Regions from separate parts of the Homo sapiens genome. Here regions 1, 2, 3 and 4 are each linked to region 5. Evidence: fine-mapped expression QTL. A gene starts in region 5. Each other region holds a variant in brackets. All regions are shown on one strand. Distances are from middle to middle. Region 1 overlaps ARHGAP19 (Rho GTPase activating protein 19). Region 2 has its middle 49 kb from the start of PIK3AP1. Region 3 overlaps ARHGAP19 (Rho GTPase activating protein 19). Region 4 overlaps SLIT1 (slit guidance ligand 1). Region 5 holds the start of SLIT1 (slit guidance ligand 1).

Region 1 (4,096 bases), 41 kb before region 5:
GTTACTGTAGAAAACGGGCTGAAACCTGGTCTTGTTATATAAGGCTCATGTGGCAGCTGAAGTGAGTCTGGTTTGACATGATTGTTTTATCACTGGGATATGAGCATAATTACTATTTGAGACATCAGCAATAGGCAGAGATCAAAAGCCTAATCCTTATGGATAAATTCTTTTCTGGAAAATTAGATTTCAGTATATTCTTCTTACTTATCCTTGAATGAATTATCTAAACTCTCTTTTCTTTCCTCGTTGCTTCTGTCTTCCAGGCTGGGCTGTCTAATTGAGACAAGATGGGGGTTTGAGTTTTTTGTGTCTAAATATTTCTGTATGTCCATGAATCAAAACCAAGCATAAGTTATTTTTGAAGGCTACATTGTTTTGTATCAGTTACAACTTTTGTTGCTGTCATTTTTGAAAGACATGCGGAAATAATACCTTTCTGTATTGACAGCTCTACCTTGGAAAGAAAGAAAGACGTTTTTTAAAAACCAGTCTAATATTTCACCAATAAGCTTTAGAGCAGGGATTGTTGACCTTGTCATCTGTGGACTTCCTAAATGGTCTAATAAAGTTCCCGGTATTGTTGATGCAATCTTTTGTGTAGGTACATATGTGTATTTTTCTGGGGGAGAGAATATATGGTTCTAATTAGATTCTCAAAAATGTTAGTAGTTCAGAGAAGTCGAGATAATGAATGACCCTCAATTGGATCAGGCAATGGCATTTTCACTTTACTCTCTCCTGGTCACTTCCTCTATCTGGAAATGCCTTCCTGGTGTTATGATGCTACATTATTCTCGTTCTTCTTCCTCTTTAATTCTTTTCCTTATCTGCAGTGGCTTACTGTTGTTTGCCTATTCCACTACATCTTTATTTTTTTCAATGCTCTATCTTAAGTTCTGCTCTTAAGTTCTGTTCGTTTCTGCACCTGCTTCTCCTGCCTCTTTGCAGCTTGGTCTCCTTCCACTGCTCAGCTCTGCTCTCTGTATGATAACTACTTCCAGCCTGGCAATGCCAGGTCTGAACTCTCTTCAGACATTGGCAGTCTCCAAGCCCACAGATCCAGGTGCCTGCCATGTATTTCTTTTATACAACAATGAATATACAACCTCAGATTTTTTGATAGTGATGTTTATAATAAAAGTAACATATTCTTTGAAGAAGATAATGTAATTTTATTACTGTGATCAACAACATAATCCAAAAAGACTATTATTTAGTACAGGATTTCTCAACCTTGGCACACTACTGACATGTTGGTTCAGATAATGCTTTGTTGTAGGAGCTGCCATGTGCACTGTATGATGAGCAGCCTTCCTGGCCTTTACCCCATCGATGCTGGGAGCATCCTTCCCCCAGTTGTGATAAGTAAAAGTGCTTCTAGACATTGCCAAATGTCCCATGGTGGGTGAGGAGGCAAAGTCATCTCCACATGAGAACCACTGATTTAGCACCTACTTATTATGGCCATTATTTTCAGTAGTCAAAATCTTACCCATTCTTCAAAGTCTAGCCTAAATCTCACCTCCTCTTTGAAACTTTCTCTGGCTAACACAGCCAAATATAATACTTTTTCCTTTGAACTTATTAATGCTACAAAAATATTGACACTTAGTATGATTTACTGTATTTACTTCACAT[A/G]TTGTCTTATCTCTGTAACTAGTTTTTCTTCTAGAAGACAAAGGTCAGACTTAGTGTATTTGTGGCCTTCTGTCTCCTGTTCTTCTCATCTTCCGAAAAATGACAGTGCCTTGTGCTGAGTCGGCTTTTAGTAAACATTGAGTGTTGAGAGGGGCGGTGGTGGTAGGAGCATGAGTTCTGCATTCAGCTGGGCTTGGGTTCCATTCCCAGTTTTGCTGCTTAATAGCTTATATATTAGTCCTCGGGCAAATGAACTATGTAGGCTGCAGATTCTTACTCTGTAAAATGGTAGGAGTAGTACCTCATATACTGGTTATTGTGAGGATAAATAATGTACATAAATAACTTAGAGCAGCACAAAATATGTACTTACTGTTAGCTGTTACGGCCATTAAGATGATTTAATGAACGAGATTATATCAGGCAGATGTTTATTTGGTAGAGTCACACATTCTTAATTAAACTCATTAGCCTTCAGTTTGGAGAAAATATTAAGTGTAGACCCTGTAGCTTTTGAGTGGGATGTTTGCAAAAAGAAATATTTAAGAACATGTCTAACGCTCTTGTTTTTCCTTCAACCTAGGATTTCTCTGAAGGATCCAGAGTTGTCTCCTATGGTCCATGCAGAATTTTCTGTTTAGTGGGCAGGTGTTATTCCTGCCCACAGCAAAGCTTGGACTTGCAGCTTGCTTGCTGCATTTTGAATTGTCAAAGCCAACTAATACCGTGACCCGACTGATACCTCTAACCCCACTCACTGGATGATGTTTGCAAGCTGTGCCTTCTGAGAGAGTGCTTAGGCCCTGTCTCTCTTTTTTAATATTATGGGGAAACCACTAACTATCCAACCAGCTTATACAGCACACTAAGGTGGGCTTCAGTGCTCACTCAATGTGTTTAGGCAGATTCCACTTTTGAAAAAAAATATGAAATGTGTGCTCAACTGCCAGTAATTTTTTAAAAAGCACTGTCCCAGTGGATTGATGTTGTTTTTAATGGATATTTTGGGTTTTTCTCTGTTTTGATAGTATTGGGTATTTGGTTGTTTTTGTTTGTTTATTTCTTTGTTTTAAAAGCCATGTTTTTGGTTGGGCTCTAAGCTAGATATCTTTCCCTCTTTTTCACTTTGAGCTTTGGGAAAACTCTTTATCTTATGAGGCTGTATTCCTCAATACCTAATTTGTGTCCAAAGAATTTATAGCTTTTCTGGACATTTTTTATTATTTCTTGGGTGTGACATCAGAGTATTTGACCTGCAGTATTGAAAAAGGAGAATTCAGAATGATACAGTATTTTAACAAATCTTAATTATTAAACTCTTTTCCTTCCTTCCATTTCTCCCTCCCTTGTCCATCTCTCTCTCTCTTTCCCTTTCCTCAGTGATGTGAAAATAATTGTGTTTTGCTGAACTTGTTATCTTCATTCAATTTCCTCTTGACTAAAACATCTCTGGTGCCAACGTAATACTTCTGAACCAAATCACTGTGACTCAAGGAAAGTCACTGACAGCATAAGAGAAGTTTGCTAAAATATTTGTATGTGGGGGAAGCTCTGGAGTGTGCCTAGGAGGGGGCTGGCTGCCTTTATGTCCCAGGATGACTCTTTATGGGTGGGATTACATTGCACCCTCTGAGGGTGCAGGCTAGACCGTCTCCTGAGAGGAAGTTAGGATCAGAAAGAAGAAGCAAGCAGCAACCTCTGCAGGGCTGACAGGATTTAAAGGAGAGAATGTTCTTATTTGGAAGCAGCTGTGGCTTGTCACCAATGTTCAAGGAGTGTTACTGTTCCGCCCTCTCTTTGTCAGAAGGGACACAGGTGGTAATTTGGAGATGGGGCCAGAGCTTCTGGCTTTTGGATTTGGTGTGTTCACTTGTGTTGGATAGAGCAGTGGCATGGCTTTGACCTAGTATGAACTGGTGTCTGCCCAGAGAGCAGCATGTAGCAGGGGGGAATGCTCAGGTTTGTGCCTGGCTCTGTGGAGCTGTACAACCCTTCTCACCCTGTGGGTTGGAGCCGAGTCAGGCCACTATGGGGAAGCAGTTGCCCCACAAAATGTGGTTTGCTGACCTATTTCTAAACTGTTGAATATGCTGCACCATTGCTGAAATGAAAGATGACTCTGGGGGAGCAGAGCTTGGCCTTGTGCCCAGCTGGCAGCCCCCTCTGCCAGCCTTTCTGCTGCTTTTGCTGCTGTAACAGCAATAGTGGAGAAAAATGTAAAATTTGGTCTTCCAGCTTAATGCAGTGTGAACAATAGATGGTTAGGAAAACAAAACTGCTTAGAAGCCCCTTTCTCTAGAGCAGTTTTATGTCATTTGTAAAAACACATATTAGCAAATTCGTTTGCGTAGGTTTCTATTAAATATTTGACTTTTTTTTTCTTATTAAGAAAATGAAATCCCTTACACCAGATATCAGTTAATTCAAACAGAAAACCCTTTGGGTATCACCAAAT
Region 2 (4,117 bases), 420 kb after region 5:
ATAGGCATGTGCCACCACACCTGGCTACTTTTTGTATTTTTTTTTTTTTTTAGTAGAGATGGGGTTTCACCATATTGGCCAGGCTGGTCTCAAACTCCTGACCTCAAGTGATCCACTTGCTTTGGCCTCCCAAAGTGCTGGATTATAGGCATGAGCCACTGTACCCAACCAGGAAACAGTCTTTTTAAGCAGTGCTGGCTTACAAACTGCAGAAACCTTTTCAGTTTACACTTGTGTGGCAAAAATAACAGTTTTCATGGGAACCACTTCTCTTCATCTCTTTCTTTATTACACAAAAAGTTTTTTTTTTTAATTTGCATACAGTGAGATTGAAACTGCCTTTGCAAAAATTAAGATAGTGAGAGAAATGCAACACTGACTCCATCTTGCTTCTAACGTCACAAACTGTCATTGTTCATTCTTGGGGGTAGGCCAAACTGACTATGGTAGGGATTTAGCTTATACTTTAACTTTAAAACAAAGATGACAACAAGTGCTTCCCAAAATTAATGCACTCCTTGCTCAGGGATTGAAACCTCCTTTGTAAAACTAACAAGGTTAGAATTATGGTTCAGGAGTCATGTAGCTGGAGGTCACAAGGTTTGTAGCCTCCCCAGTTGCTCCTATAGACAACAGCACTATTGCAAAATATCAGATTGGTGTTTGAGGTATTTTTCAGACCTTACGTTCTGATGGACCAGCTGGCTCCACTTAGACCAGTAACCCATACCAAGAAACTAGCTCAGTTGGTCTTGTGACCCCCACCCAGGAACTGACTCAACACAAGAAGACAGCTTCATCCCCTATGATTTCATCGCTGACCCAATCAATCAGCACTCCTCATTCTCTAGCCCCCTGCCCACTGAGCTATCCATGAAAAACCCTACCCTCCAAATTCTTGATGAGGTGGATTTGAGAATTATCTCTCATCCTCCAGCTTGGCTAGCCCCACAATAAGCACACTCTTTCTTTCTTTCTTTTTTCTTTTTTCTTTTTTTTTTTTTTGAGAGGGACTCTTGCTCTGTTGCCCAGCCTGGAGTACAGTGGCACAATCTTGGCTCACTGCAACTGGGTTGCCTCCTGGGTTCAAATGATTCTCTTGCCTCAGCCTCCCGAGTAGCTGGGATTACAGGCACCCGCCACCACATCCAGCTAATTTTTTTGTATTTTTGGTAGAGATGGGGTTTCACCATGTTGGCCAGACTGATCTCTAACTTCTGACTTCAGGTTATACGCCTGCCTTGACCTCCCAAAGTGCTACTTGGGAGGCTGAGGTGGGCGGATCACTTGAACCCCGGAGGCGGAGGTTGCAGGGAGCTAAGATTGGGCCACTGCACTCCAGTCGGGGCAACAGAGTGAAACTCTATCTCAAACAACAACAAAACGGAAACTTATTGGCTGGGTGCAGTGGCTCACACCTATAATCCCAGCATACTGGGGAGGCCAAGGTAGATAGATCAATGAGCCCAGGAGTTTGAGACCAACATGGTGAAACCTTGTCTCTACAATAAATATAAAAATTAGCTGGGCATGGTAGTATGAACCTGTAGTCTCAGCTACTTAGGAGACTGAGGTGGGAGGATCACCTGAGCCCCAGGAGGTCAAGGTGGCAGTAAGCCATGAACGTGCCACTGCACTCCAGTCTGGAGGGCATGAAAAAAAAAAAAGAAATGGAAACATATTAATCCCAAACCAGTGTCAATAAGTTGGGGAAGAAGAGGAGCCATTGAAAAAGATTTTTTTTATTGTTTTATTTATTATTTTTTTTTGAGACAGAGTCTCTCTCTGTTACCTGGGTTGGAGTGCAGTGGTGTGATCTTGGCTCACTGTGACCTTTGCCTCCCGGGTTCAAGTGATTCTCCTTCCTCAGCTTCCCGAGTAGCTGGGATTACAGGCGCATGCTACCATGCCCAGCTTATTATTATTATTATTATTTGTATTTTTAGTAGAG[A/G]CAAGGTTTCACCATGTTGGCCAGGGTGGTCTTGAACTCCTGAGCTCAAGCAATCTGCCTGCTTTAGCCTCCCAAAGTGCTGGGATTACAGGCGTGAGCTACCTTGCCTGGCCCCTAGTCTTAACTTGTAATAGATACACAATAATTATTTTTAAATTAATTTTTTACAGTAATTATTAAATGAATGAATGAATAAACAAACACTTGAGGCACAGTCTGATGTATTAGAAAGAACGCAGGCTTGGAGTTGTATTAGCCTGTGTTGAATCTTGGCTTTTTGGTGTGTGGCCTTGGGTAAGCTACTTGACTTCAGTATCCATCCCAAAAATGGATTCATGGTTCCTCTCTCTTAGAATCATTAAATAAATGAAATGAAATTAAATTAATTAAATTAAATGGAACAATGCATATGCATACTTATGTCAAAGCTGGCATTCTTTTTCCTATGGGTGAGCATGTAAGGTAGCTCATATTAAGCCTAACTTCTACTATAAAAGGGGAAACCCCAAAATAGGACTCATAAAACCAATGCCAGAGACTAGAGCATAAATTCTATATTATTCTTTGGGGTGACTTCTGTTCCTCTGTGCTGCATTCTGGGAATTTTCTTCTGACCCCTGCTCCATTCACTGATTGATTTGACTGTAGCTAATAAAGTATAAACCCATCTGTTGAGGGTTTTTGTTTTGTTTTTTTGTTTTCTGAGACTGAGTCTCACTCTGCTTCCCAGGCTAGAGGGCAGTGGTGTGATCTCTGCAGACTGCAACCTCCGTCCCCTGGGTTCAAGCAGTTCTACTGCCTCAGCCTCCCAAGTAGCTGAGATTACAGGTACGCACTACCACACCTGGCTAATTTTTATAGTTTTAGTAGAGATGGGGTTTCACCATGTTGGCCAGGCTGGTCTGTAACTCCTGGCCTCAAGTGATTCACCCGCCTAGGCCTCCCAACCATCTGTTGAGTTTTAGGTTTTTATTATTATACTCATGTAATGTAGTAAATTACACATAATATGAAATGTATTTTTTTCTGAAAACATGTCAGTTTCATATAAAACTTATTTTAAAACCTTTAAAAGTGTATAGTTCTGTAGCATAAATATATTCACATTGTTGTGCAACCATCACATCCATCTATCTGCAGAACATTTCATTTTCCCAAGCTGAAACCCGGTACCCATTAAACCAGGGTACAGAGACCTGTATCAGTCCGTGGTCTGTTAGGAACCGCGTCACACAGCAGGAGGTGAGTGACGAGTGAGGGAGCAAACCTTCATCTGTATTTACAGCCGCTCCCAGTCATTTGCGTTACCACGTGAGCTCCGCCTCCTGTCAGATCAGCAGCGGTATTACATTCTCATAGAAGCATGAATTCTACTGTGAACTGCACATATGAGGGATCTAGGTTGCCCACTGTTGATGAGAATCTAATGCCTGATGATCTGTCACTGTCTCCCATCACCTCCGGATGGGACTGCCTAGTTGCAGGGAAACAAGCTCAGGGCTCCGAAGGATTCTACATTATGGTGAGTTGTATAATGATTTCATTATGTATTAGAATGTAATCATAACAGAAATAAAGTGCACAGTAAATGTAAGGCCCTTGAATCATCCCAAAAATATCTTCCCCTCCCATACCTGTCCATGGAAAAATTGTCTTCCACAAAACCAGTCCCTGGTGCCAAAAAGATTGAGGACTGCTGCATTAAACAATAACTCCTGATTCTCTTCCCCCAACCCCAGTCCTTAGTAACCATTGTTGCACTTCCTGTCTCTGTGAATTTTATTACTCTAGTTACCTCATATAAGTGGAATCATGCAATGTTTGTCCTTTTGCATCTGGCTTACTTCACCTAGCGTATCTCATCCATGGTTCATCCATGTTGTAGCATGTGTCAGAATGTCCTTCCTTTTAAAGGCTGACTCATATTACATTGTATGTATATCACGCATTTTGTTTATCCATTCATCAGTTGATGAACATTTGAGTATGTATATCACACTGTATATATATCTGTATGTATATCACACATTTTGTTTGTTCATCCATCAGTTGATGAACATTTCAGTTGTTTTCACCTTTCGGCTATTGTGAATAATACTGCTATGAACATGGGTGTATAAATATCTGTTCAAATCTTTGCTCTTAATTCTTTAGTATGTATATCCA
Region 3 (4,117 bases), 63 kb before region 5:
GGCTCAAGCGATCCTCCCACCTCAGATTCCCAAGCAGCTGGGACAGGTGCGTGCCACCATGCCTGGCTAATTTTTCTATTATTTGTGGTGACAGGGTACTACCATGTTGCCCAGGCTGGTGTTGAACTCCTGGGCTCAAGCATTTCTCCTGCCTTGGCCTCCCAAAGTGTTGGGATTACAGGCATGAGCCACCGCTCTTGGCCTTCTTTCTTTTTTTTAAATGAAATAGAATAGATATATTCTTGTTTGGAGAAAATTTCTGTTGGTCTTAAGCTCCGTTTTATAGTTTTTCAATTTAGAAATTAAACTGGCTGGGCGTGGTGGCTCACTCCTGTAATCCCAGCACTTTGGGAGGCCAAGGCAGGTGGATCACCTGAGGTCAGGAGTTCAAGACCAGCCTAGTCAACACGGTGAAACCCCATCTCTACTACAAAAATTAGCCGGGCGTGGTGGTGGGCGCCTGTAGTCTCAGCTACTTGGAGGCTGAGGCAGGAGAATCACTTGAACCCGGGAGGCAAAGGTTGTGGTGAGCCAAGATTGCGCCATTGCACTCCAGCCTGGCGACAGAGCGAGACTCCATCTCAAAAAAAAAAAAAGAAAAAGAAATTAAACTATACATATCATGTTTTTGTCATGAGACTCTTTGAAGACCTTTATTTTGAAAAATTTCAAATATAGAGAAAAGTTAAAAGAGTAAAACAGTGAATACTCATATATAACTCTCCCCCAGTGTCAACAAATGTTATCATATTGCCATATTAGCTTTATCTCTCTCTATATATGTTCATACACTTTTTTGGCTGAATCACTAAAAGTAGTTGCAGACACCATGATACTTCATTCCTAAGTACTTATGTATGCATCTCCCAATAATAAACATATTCTCTTAAGAATCACACTACTGGCCGGGTGCGGTGGCTCACGCCTGTAATCCCAGCACTTTGGGAGGCTGAGGCGGGCGGATCATGAGGTCAGGAGATCGAGACCATCCTGGCTAACACGGTGAAACCCCGTCTCTACTAAAAATACAAAAAATTAGCCAGGCGCGGTGGCAGGCCCCTGGGAGAGGCTGAGGCAGGAGAATGGCGTGAACCCGGGAGGTGGAGCTTTCAGTGAGCTGAGATTATGCCACTGCACTCCAGCCTGGGCGACAGAGCCAGACTCCGTCTCAAAAAAAAAAAAAAAAAAAGAATCACACTACTATTATCACATCTAAGAAACTAAAAAGAATTTCTTATCAACTAGCTTTCAGTACATATTCAAATTCCCCAGCTGTCCTAAGAATGTATTTCATACTTTTTTTCAATATAGGCCAATCAAAGCTTCTGTACTGGTTTTAATTATTATGACACTTTTAATCTACACACTCATGCTTTTTCTTCATGTCATTTATTGAAGCATCAAGTTAACTGTGTTGTAGAATGTCTCACATTCTAAGTTTGTCTTATTGTTTTCTCAAGTTATTTAACTTGTTCCTCTATCACCTTCCATGTAGTTCCTGTAAAGTAGAAGCCAGGTCTACAGTCTTAATCAGATTCAGATTAAGCATTTTTGGCAAAGATACTTCACAGGTGATGTTTGTGTGCGTCACATTGCCTCACATGAGGAGACACAGATTGTTTGATTTTCTCTCTTCATGATGTTAATTTTGCTAACTGCCAGATCTTTCAGTTACAAAGGTAAATTTTTTTCCCCTTTGCGGTTAGTAAATAACCTGTAGAGTGATTACCTAATAATGGTTTTAGCATCCGTTGATAATCCTGCTGGAATCTATTGGGTATTAAAAATAAAG[A/G]TTTTCTAATTTTGTCATTTAGCCTTTATAAGCTGAGTTTCTTCTTTGGAGAATAGCTTTTCTTTGTCTCATTCTCTCTCCCTTTAAAAATGAATATTAATATAAACTCATGGATTTTTATTTTTCCAAAGTGTTAGTCAATTTTACTTATAATGTTGATATTCTCCTGGGCAATGTGGCAAAACCCCATCTCTATGAAAAATACAAAAAATTAGCCGGGCGTGATGGCACACTCCTGTGGTCCCAGCTACTCAGAGGCTACGGTGGTAGGATGGCTTGAGCCCGGGAGGTGGAGGTTGCACTGAGCCGAGATTATGCCACTGCACTCCAGCCTGGGTGACAGAGTGAGACCCTGTCACAAACAAACAAACAAACAAAATTGATATTTAAATTATCCCAGATTTGGCCGGTGATAGCCCTTGTTAACCGGCTTCTACATCTTTTTGACAGGACTGTATTGTCTTTGAGTGTTTCCTTTCTGGTATAAAATGTTCCCAGCTCACTTTGTACTTGCGCTGGCCTAGATCGGAGTAATTATTTCTCCAGGGAACCTTGGCTTCTGAGTGATACTAGGTATATTCATTGTTTCTGGTGTGTCATTGCTTCTAGGCTGCTTGAGGGCAAAGAAATAGATTAAAACATTTTTTTAAAGCAATTGTAAGTTCATATTAATACCACCAATTCAGATTTAATACTACGCAACTTTTTCTTGGCTTCTTGTATTTTGTATTTGTATTTCTTTTTTTCTTATATTACAAATTTCAGATTTTTTTTTTCTTGTTTTGGAGATTTTCACTCTGTCACCCAGGCTGGAGTGCAGTAGCACGATCTGGGCTCACAGCAGCCTCTGCCTCCTGGGACCAGTCGATCCTCCCACCTCAGCCTCTCGAGTAGCTGGGTCTACAGGTGAGCGCCACCACACCCGGCTAATTTTTGTATTTTTTGTAGAGATGGGTCTCACCATGTTGCCCAGGCTGGTCTCAAACTCCTGGGCTCAAGTGATCTACCCGCTTTGGCCTCCCAAAGGCGGGGTGAAACCCCGTCTCTACAAAAGTACAAAAATTAGCCGGGCATGATGGTGGGTGCTTGTAATCCCAGCTACTTGGGAGGCTGAGGCGGAAGAATCACTTGAACCTGGGAGGCGGAGGTTGCAGTGAGCCGAGATCATGCCATTGCACTCCAACCTGGGCGAGAGAGTGAGACTCCGTCTCAAAAAAAAAAAAAAAAAGTCAAAACCACATTAAAAGATATACTTAGAGAAATCTCAATCCTTTCTAATTATTTTCATTGTTTTCTGGGTTATCCTGTTAGTGTTTCTTTTTATAAAAACAAGTAAATGTACATTTGTGTGTATATTCCTATTTCCTGGTTTTTTCTTACACAAATATACATTTACTTCACTTTTCTCACTCAACAGTAGATCCTAGAAATCCTTCCATATCAATTCATTAAGTGTTTCTTCCTTCTCTCCATCCTTTCTTTTTCTCTCCCTCCCTTCCTTTCCTTTCTTTCCCTCTGTTCCTTCCTTTCTTTCCCTCCCTGCCTCCTCTCCCTTCCTTTCTTCATAGTACTGTATTGTATGGATGTATGAAAGTTGATTCAACCAGTTCTCTATTAAAGAACATTTGGGTTGTATCCAATTTTTTGATTAATCTTATACGAGTGTGTTTTGCATTTCTGAAGTTACATACTCAGGATATGTTACCAGTAGTGAGGTTTCTGGGTAAAAGGGTAAGTGCAAATGTAATTTTATTAGATGTTACAAACCCAGTTTTCCTCTATGGTAGTTGTATTATTTTGCACATCTACTAAGACAGTATCAGGGTAGTTGTCACAGGATTCTAGTCCATAGTAATTCTAAATGGTATTTCTTTCTTTCTTTTTTGAGACAGGGTCTTGCTCTGTTGCCTAGGCTGGAGTGCAGTGGTATGAACATGGCTCACTGCAGCCTTGAACTTCTGGGCTCAAGTGATTCTCCCCCTTAGCCTTCTGAGTAGCTGGGACCACAGGCATGCACCACCATGCCCGGCTAATTTTTTTGTAATTTTTTTTTTTTTGAGATGGAGTTTCGCTCTTGTTGCCCAGGCTGGAGTGCAATGGTGTGATCTTGGCACACTGCAACCTCTGTCTCCTGGGTTCAAGCGATTCTCCTGCCTCAGTCTCCTGAGTACCTGGGATTACAGGCATACGCCACCACACCCGGCTAATTTTGTATTTTTAGTAGAGATGGGGTTTCACCATGTTGGTCAGGCTGGTCTCGAACTCCTGACTTCAGGTGATCCACCCACCTTGGCCTCCCATAGTGCTGGGATTACAGGCATGAGC
Region 4 (4,117 bases), 150 kb after region 5:
GCCTAGCCATGGGAGGAGGAGGTGACCAAGAGCAGGCATTAGCTGACTAGGAGCTGGAGTTCGGGCTTTGCAGAAAACACTGCCTCCAGAAAGGCTTTGAGCTTCTCTCTGATTCTCCCTCTGCGGTCACCTGATGACCGCATGGCAGCGAGTGCTTCCTCCCTTTAAACTAAGCTCCGCCTTTAAAATGAGGAGAACCTTGCTTTCCCGCCTGTCATTGTCTCAGGCTCCTGTGTCATGAAGACACAAATGTGATTTTTGCACCAGCAGTGTAGTGTTCTTCACATGAATCTACTATGACCCAGATAACAAAACCCCTTTTGTTGGATATTTGTTTCCAATTTTTTTTTACTGTCATAAACAGCACCAGTGCTAACACCCCCTCACTGAAATCGCCAGTCAGAGAGCGGTGCGTTTTTAGGACTCTTGCTGCCTTTTGCCTGATGGTCTTCCAAGAAAATCTGTTTCCTTTGCACTCCCATTGACCATGTGAGAAGGTGGCCTTCTTGCTTCCCTGGGTCAGCACTGAGTATGGTGCTGAAATCCTGGCTGATTGGTATTTGGTATCTGAGCACATGTGGAGGATTGGACATAGATGCATTTGACAAACAGGAATGGAGAGCTGGGACTTCTTCAGCAGACACCTCCCAATGAAAGACTCTGGCCAGCTCCTGACCTCTGACCTCTTCCTGTGCTCTGGGGTTGATCCCTCCAGGCCTCCAAAGCTGAGCTTTTCTCCCCCCACCCCCAGGACCAGCGATGAGGCTTCTATTTGTTATTTCTTGCATTACCAGCAAGGCTGGCCTTTTCTTCACAAGCACATCAACCACTGCGGGCCTTTTCCTGGGCCTGGCCTGCCCCGTCTTCACCCTGTTTTCTACTGCAGAGTTAGTGTCCTACAAACCTCATGAGTCCTTGCTTTCTCCTTGGAGCCTCCTAGCAGCCCTGAGAATAATGGGATGGGTGGGGCAGCCTACCTTCTTTGACTGAAGATGGTGAAGTTCAGAGCCTGCGAAAATCTTTTAACTTCTCTAAACCTCAGTTTTGTCATCTGTGAAATGGGACTACTTGGGTATGTGGACGAGGACTGCCTCGAGGATCAAACGAGATGGGTGGGAAGTCAGTTTGTATGATGCAGAGCGAGGGGTAAGGATGAGCACAGCCCTCCTTTTGCTCCTCTCTGGGGCTTTGGGAAGTGGGGGAGAGCTGTCCTGCAGGCTGTAGTTAGTTGGGGGGTGGAGATCCTGTGCTGGAGCTCAGCTTGGCTCAGCTCCTGGCATTGGGCCACTGCTTAGCACCTTCAGGCTGGAGGCATGAATGGTCAACAATGAAGGGAAGAGGGGGAGGTTCAGAGCATCTTGAATCCCAAGCTCTATCCTGTAGAAATGGGAACCTTGGGAAGCTTCGGGCTTAGGAGGATTTCGGTGGGCTTGGTTTTAAGGACAGTGACTTGGATAGCAGTGAGTAGAGTGGAGGCCAGAAGGGAGGTCCAAGGTGCAGAGAACAGACAGAAGAGGCTGCAGCAGGAGCCCGGGCATGGGTGGTGGTGCACAGTCGGCGGGTGGCATGAGAGTGCAAGGAAAGCAAGCTGTGAGAGAGCAGCGGTGGCACTGGCTGCAGAGGGAGGAGGAGAAGCGACATCAGGGTGCGGAGCCTGGAAGGCAGGAAGGCAGAGGGGTGCTGATGGAATGAGGGGGAACTGGTTGGGCAGTCTGGCTGTGAATCAGCTTCACAGCCCATGCCAGCAGGTGGACAGGGGGCCCTGGGAGCTGGCAGGGCCCGGTAACGTGCAAATCAGATCTATTTGGCCAGGAAAGAGCAGAGCAGGGAGGGGAAGGCAGGGGCCCAGGGAGTGTCCATGGACAAGGAGGAGGCTGGGAGGGTGAGAAGGGAAGC[G/A]AGAAGGGAACCGAGAGAGGCCACGTGACTATTGGCTTTTTACCAAGTCCTCTGGGTGGCACCTCCCCAGATGGCTTCAACAACGTACATATTTTCTCCTCCCATAAGTGATTCTGGGCCCATCGTGTGGCCTATGTGGAGGAGAGGAAATGAGAGCGAAGTCCCTGGCTGCAGGGAAGGCTGTCCCCAGCATGGGGCACCACCAGAGGTGGAGATGGGCACTAACGCCGCTGTGTTCTCTCTGCAGCTATTTGGACGGGAACCAGTTCACGCTGGTTCCGGGACAGCTGTCTACCTTCAAGTACCTGCAGCTCGTGTAAGTATCCAGGCCGCTTGAGGACAGGAGGGCCTTTGGCATCTAACCATCAGGACTCCGGCTTTCCTGGAATTTCCTACGGACCTCACTTCTGGGCAGATCCTGCTTCTTTTCCTTTCCCTGCTCCCCTCTGGGAACAGCTGTGCCTAGAGCTGTTTTGCCACCTAGTGGCCACGATTGGCAATTACATAGTTCCAGGCCATGTTGGGTTGGACCTGCCTCCTCCTCCTGCCCACGCCGTCTCCCCAAAGCTCCCCCGTGAGGCTGGTCGTGACTGTTAAAAGGGTTATCCTGGTCGGGCGGGCACGGTGGCTCACACCTGTAATCCCAGCACTTTGGGAGGCTGAGGCGGACGGATAACCTCTCGAACTCATGTTGGAGTTCGAGACCAGCCTGATCAACATGGAGAAACCCCATCTTTCCTAAAAATACAAAATTAGCCGGGCATGGTGGCACATGCCTGTAATCCCAGCTACTCGGGAGGCTGAGGTAGGAGAATCGCTTGAACCCGGGAGGTGGAGGCTGCAGTGAGCCAAGATCGCACCATTGCACTCCAGCCTGGGCAACAAGAGCAAAACTCCGTCACACACACACACATACACACACACACACACACACACACACACACACACACACACACACACACACAAAGGGGGTTATTCTTGCAAGGTTAGGAGCCAAGGAGCCAGGAAAAGTGGAGGGTGATGGAAAGCTTCTCGGTCCAGCTCAGCTCTCAAACCAAGTATGAACTATGGCAGCTACAAATACATACCTGTAACTAAGTTTTTCTTCAGGCTACGCCTCTGCTTTTCTATTATTTCCACCTTTGACCCCTTCTACTCCATGAAAATATACAAAATAAGCCTCAGGATAATAAGTTCAGCTCCTTTTAGTTTTCTAGCCTACCTAGCTCCTCACTTCAATTGTCTTTATCTGCTCCTTGGCCAGATTCTACCAAAAAGAAGTCCAGAGAACATTCCACCTTAGTGTGATTTGGAGCAGTCCCACTCCAAGTGCAATCTACGGGCCCACATCAGTCCCAGAACTGTTTGTAATGGGTTTGTAATTAGATATGGCGCTTACACCAGAATCTAAATCAATGTATTGCTTCCTTTGTTGAGAAAGTCTTGCTATGGAAACAATGTTCGCGTAAACTAAGCTAGGTGTGGTGACCGGATCTTGGCCCAAGTTTCTTATTGTGGGTTGGTGAAATTTAGTTCAAGGACTGGCTACTTTGGGCGGCTCTGGCTTACAGAATTTTGAAGCTCCAATTTATCTGTCTTTGCTTAATGACCTGGCCAATGTGTGTTGAATGTTCCAATGGGAGGGGTGGAGAAGGGATGGAGTAGTGTGATTCAGTGGCTGGTGTCAGAGTGCTTTGAGCCAGTGAAACTGCCTCTTGGGGGCTGAAGTACCACCACCTCCTCATCACAGGGGAGGACCACAAAGTGTGTTGAACATTCAGTAGAGCACTTAAATGTATCTCCAAAGACAGTGGAATGATTTAGAATTAGATTAGAGGAACGTTCAGGAGGAGAAGATGAAGGCACGGCACATCGTTGCATTTTCTAAATGTTTCCTGAGCTGAGAGCGCATGAAGTGGGCAGACGTGAAGGCCCCGAAGTCATGGCCCCCTCTCCAGACTGTCATGGTTTAGGGAGGATGCAGGGGAGGGGAGGGAGCGCATAAAGTCGTGTGGGTGATAAGGGTTCCAACAGAGGTCAATGCTGATTAGGGCTGTGGCTCAAGGAGGATGTGATCAACTCAGGGAGGCGGCTTGCGGGGAGGGCATCTTGGAACACGAGCTGGAGTTCATTGGTGGGCAGAGGGAATAAGCTGTCTGGGGCCACAGAGTGTAGTCTGCTCAGAGAACTTCAAGAAGCTTAGTGAATCCTAAGCCTGGGA
Region 5 (4,117 bases):
TGGTGAGCTGCAGGGCAGGGGCAGCCCTCTCAGACTCCGGCCTGGTTTGTGGGAAGCTTCCCTAATATCCCACCACACAGGCACCCCTGAGAAAGCCCTGCCCCCTGAGAAACTGAACTTATGCTCAAGAACCCACTTACCGGATGGAGGTCATGGACAGGGATGTGTGAAAACTTTAAAAGAACTGTCAAAAGCCCATAAAATCAGCCACCTAAATTGTAACATACTGTGCTATGACAGTAGAGAGACTGCAAAATTCTCATCAACATGGAAAAGAAAAGCAAAGAAAACGCCTGAGCCTTGGGTACCTGGTGGGTGATAAGGCTTCAACCTTGTGGAGTCTATCAACCTCCCCTATCCCCACCCTGCCCGACACTCTCCCCACCAAATGCGTCCATGCTGTGTCTGGACCCAGGCCGCTCCTGAGACGGGAGGTGCTTCTCGGGCTACCCAGCTGTGTCCTCTTGCCAAGCAGCCTCACGTCAAGGCCCCGACTGCTGGACACTGCCCCAGCGAGCCACAGCTGTCCTTGGCGTTGAGGAGATCTTTCGTCTTTTCTGGGGTTGAGGAGAATTCTCTCCCCACCTGGATGTCCCGTTCACACCCACGTCCACACATGCCTTACGGTGACGAAGGTCCCTACCCAGCCGGGTGTGAGGCCTGGGTCTGACGGGGCTGGCCTGTGGGGTTCTCTCCCAAGCAGGCCGCCCAGCGCTATGCCAGCCCTCTCTGTCTCCTTTGATGTCAAGATGGAATATTCATTTTCATCTGTTTCCACCTGTCAGAAATGGAGGAACGCTGGTGTGAGTGGAGGAAGACGTTTGCCAGATTTCCAAGTCCCCTTAATGTCTGTCCCTCTCTTCTACAACGGGGGAAGAAGCCCGTGTAACTGTATGGTACAAATACGCCCTGCTGAGCAAGTGTTCCAATCAGAGCCATTCTCATCCTGGGCATGCGGCTAGCTTGTTCCCCTCTGAGAAGTGGGTGCATTGAGGTAGGAAGGAGACTGTACTCCGCCTAGCGCTTTCGTGGACCCTCCCCCCCGACAAAGCTCCATCCTCAAAGTCCAGGCTAAGTAAGGTTGGTGGCTTGAGGATGCTACCTGGGGCACAGGCACAGGGTTTCCCTTAACCAAGAATTGACACAGCGAGTCGGGTGGGGCCGAGAGGCCGCTGCTGCCGTCGGGGGATGGGGGGAAACGGGTCTGACTCCCCGGGAAGGCGTCCAAGCGGCAAAATAAGATCTCCCTCCCACCCTGGACTAGCAGCTGGGGCCGCGGGTGCCGGGGTGCGTGCGTCTAAATGTGCGCATCCTCGCCGTGTGTGTGTGTGTGTGTGTGTGTGTGTGTGTGTGTGTGTGTGTACAGCCAGGACTTGGCGGGTCGAGTCACACCCCCTTCCCTCTTCTCCCATCCCCCGCAGCCCCGTGCCCGCTGACGGCGCCTCGGAGGTTCCACCTTTGAAACTGTAGGCGGCTTGCAGCCGCTGAGTGGTCGTCGGGAGAGGGGGGCTGCGGCGGGGGAGGGCGGGGAGGAGCCTGGCCCTGGATGTGTGCTTTTCGATTGATGGATGACTGCCGGGTGGGAGCGAGCGCGCGGGTGTGTGTGTGATCGTGTGTGTGTGTGTGGTGTGTGCGCAGGGTGCGTGCGCGCGCGGGGCCTGCCCATTTTCCTCCTCGCAGCAGTCAGTTGGGAGCTGGAGGGAGGGAGAGGGAGACGCAGGCGGCGAAACGGCAGAGGAGCCGAGCCCCCTCCGCCCAAGGCGCCCTCCCTCCGTCCGCGCACAGGCGCCGTCGCTTGGAGGAGCAAGGTGCCTCCCAGCCCGCAGGGGCGCCGCGCGCAAGCCCGCGGGCTCTTCGGTGGCTCTGCCCCGGGACTGCACCTGGAGGCGGCCCCGGACGGGGATGGTCAGCGGCTGCTGCCGTCTGGCTCGCGAGCGGGACGCTGTGAGGGCACCATGGCGCTGACTCCCGGGTGGGGGTCCTCGGCGGGGCCGGTCCGGCCGGAGCTCTGGCTGCTGCTGTGGGCAGCCGCGTGGCGCCTGGGTGCCTCGGCGTGCCCCGCCCTCTGCACCTGCACCGGAACCACGGTGGACTGCCACGGCACGGGGCTGCAGGCCATTCCCAAGAATATACCTCGGAACACCGAGCGCCTGTGAGTATGGTCCCCGCCCCTGGCTCCCTGGCTCCGAGGTTGCCCTCCCACCCAGACGCAATTCCGGACTTGGGGGTGGGGGCAGGACCATTGGGGCCCGTCCGGGCTCCGCAGCCCACAGACGGGTCAGTGCCTGCCGGGGTCTTTCCCGAGCCAGGAGCCAGGAGCGCCGTGGTTTCCCCATCCCTGGGATTCAAAGGGCCCTCGGCGGGGTTGTCAGCTTCCGTCCTCACACCTGCACCCTGCACCCTGCACTCCGCACCCTCAGGCCCTCCTCACTGCGCCAGCGCTTTATTCCTCCAGGGTGCCTGCGAACTGGTGTCAGAAAGCCTTCCTTGCACCCAGGAGGGACACTTCCCACACTCGCCAAGCACAATGTCTCCTTTTGGGCACATGGGGCTACGGCCGCGTTCTGAGCCAGCTGCGCAGATTCCCGCTCCCAGAGCTTGCTCCTGACGAAGGGCAGCAGGGTGGGATGGAGGCGAAGTTTCTGGTCTGCCCCTTCTTCTCCATTGTTTGCCCCAGAGCCTTGAGAATTCTTCCCCTGCAGGTGCCACGCGTTGGTCCCCTACTCACCCGCCTCCCTCCACACCCAGCCATCCCCAACACAGGCAGACAATGGGACCTGAGGGCTTTGGGTATGGGGCTTGGGGTATGTAACATTCAGCACCCGAAAAGGGGCAGGTGTGTCTTGGATGGAGAACCCGGTGGATAATGCCAAGAAGTCAGGAGCTTGGAGAGGGGGGCCCAAGGTTAAAGATATTGACCATGACAAGTAATAAAAAAATAGCATTTCTCTTCCCCTGTTCTGTCTCACTTGTGAATTCTTGAGGAAACTTGATCCTTTTCTTTTCTAGACCCAGTAAGCTAGTAGAATGTGTGTGTGTGTGTTTGGGTGTGTTTGAGTGTGTGTATTTACAGACCTTTATACTTTGTTTTCTGTGACTCTCCTGCAGAATGTGTTTCTGTGTGAATTCCTAGTATTAAGGGGCCACCTTAATAGCGTGAGGCCATGAGAGTCCCCGTAATGGGCTGTGTGTGTGTAGATTTTGGTCACATGCAGGGCCTTTGTACTGCTCGCAGAGGTGACTACACCAGGAGATTTTTGAACAGGGCTTTGGAGAAGGCTGCTGGCTCCTTTGAAACCTACCTACTCCTCCTTCCCACACTCCTCGGTGACTGCAGTGGCTCTCAGGAAAGGTGTGCATATTTTGATAACTTTCGAGCACATTTTCATGGCCCCCAGCTGGTCAGAGACAGAAATCTGACCCTGAGGAGAGCTGTCTCCCGAATCAGACTCTGTACCAAGGCCAGCAATTAGTGAGCACACATTTGCCCCAGACTCTTCTTGGCTGCATCTGAAAAATTCCCGTGGAGGTTTTAGAGAATTTGCAATCTAGATGCAATCTAGATGGGAAGTGTGTGTGTGTGTGTGTGTGTGTGTGTGTGTGTGTGTGTGGTGCATGTGTATGTGTGTGTGTGAATGCTTGTGTGTTACAGGGCTGGGGAGAGGTGGTACCAAACTGAGTTTCTGTGGGCAGCGTGTGCATTATCCTGTGTGGACCCAGAGAGGATCTGAGGGTCAGAAATCTGTCCAGAGGACCCCCGCAGTGGCCTGGTCACCCTCCATGCCTGTCCCCTCTGTACCTGCTCCCTGCTCCCCTTGCCTTGTCCACTGGAGTTTCTCCTGAAGCTGCTACCCTGGTTGCAGCCTAGATCTAAGACACATTAGCCCTTCTTCTTTGCTTTTGAATCTTGAGTCTTAAAGTCATCTCCTCCCTCTTTACTCTCTCACCACCTTTAGTGTTTAAGACTTCCATGAACTCTTTAGCTCTTTTGTGATCAGAGTGAGATGAAAATGAAATTTCCTAGTACAGAGGAAAGAGGTGGCATTCTGGGAGCTATACTGCCTGGTTCCCCAGCTCTGTCACCTATTAGCTGTGTGACCTTGGGCAAGTTACTTAA

Evidence for each region.
Region 1: its variant is fine-mapped to the expression of SLIT1 in tibial nerve (GTEx, PIP above 0.99).
Region 2: its variant is fine-mapped to the expression of SLIT1 in prostate (GTEx, PIP above 0.99).
Region 3: its variant is fine-mapped to the expression of SLIT1 in whole blood (INTERVAL, PIP above 0.99).
Region 4: its variant is fine-mapped to the expression of SLIT1 in lung (TOPMed, PIP above 0.99).

The regions. Positions count from the first base shown.
Region 1 is chr10:97,224,261-97,228,356 of GRCh38, reverse strand. ARHGAP19 (Rho GTPase activating protein 19) reads left to right here. Exons shown (of 12, transcript NM_032900.6): 12 at 2,225-4,096. The coding sequence ends at 2,235. All of the region lies in intron 11 of ARHGAP19-SLIT1 (ARHGAP19-SLIT1 readthrough (NMD candidate)), which reads left to right. All of the region lies in intron 2 of LOC105378447 (a long non-coding RNA gene), which reads right to left. Among named protein-coding and RNA genes, the nearest start is that of SLIT1, 40 kb to the right of the region's middle. The variant A/G (reference allele first, on the strand shown) is at 1,642.
Region 2 is chr10:96,767,458-96,771,574 of GRCh38, reverse strand. No RefSeq gene overlaps it. Among named protein-coding and RNA genes, the nearest start is that of PIK3AP1, 49 kb to the right of the region's middle. The variant A/G (reference allele first, on the strand shown) is at 1,952.
Region 3 is chr10:97,246,870-97,250,986 of GRCh38, reverse strand. The region is part of intron 6 of ARHGAP19 (Rho GTPase activating protein 19); the gene reads left to right. All of the region lies in intron 6 of ARHGAP19-SLIT1 (ARHGAP19-SLIT1 readthrough (NMD candidate)), which reads left to right. Among named protein-coding and RNA genes, the nearest start is that of ARHGAP19, 44 kb to the left of the region's middle. The variant A/G (reference allele first, on the strand shown) is at 1,793.
Region 4 is chr10:97,035,793-97,039,909 of GRCh38, reverse strand. It overlaps SLIT1 (slit guidance ligand 1), which reads left to right. Exons shown (of 37, transcript NM_003061.3): 22 at 2,144-2,212. Among named protein-coding and RNA genes, the nearest start is that of SLIT1-AS1, 65 kb to the left of the region's middle. RefSeq lists an enhancer at 1,328-1,828. The variant G/A (reference allele first, on the strand shown) is at 1,897.
Region 5 is chr10:97,183,513-97,187,629 of GRCh38, reverse strand. It overlaps SLIT1 (slit guidance ligand 1), which reads left to right and starts at 1,671. Exons shown (of 37, transcript NM_003061.3): 1 at 1,671-2,152. The coding sequence starts at 1,956. The region is part of intron 11 of ARHGAP19-SLIT1 (ARHGAP19-SLIT1 readthrough (NMD candidate)); the gene reads left to right. RefSeq lists enhancers at 826-1,326, 1,327-1,827.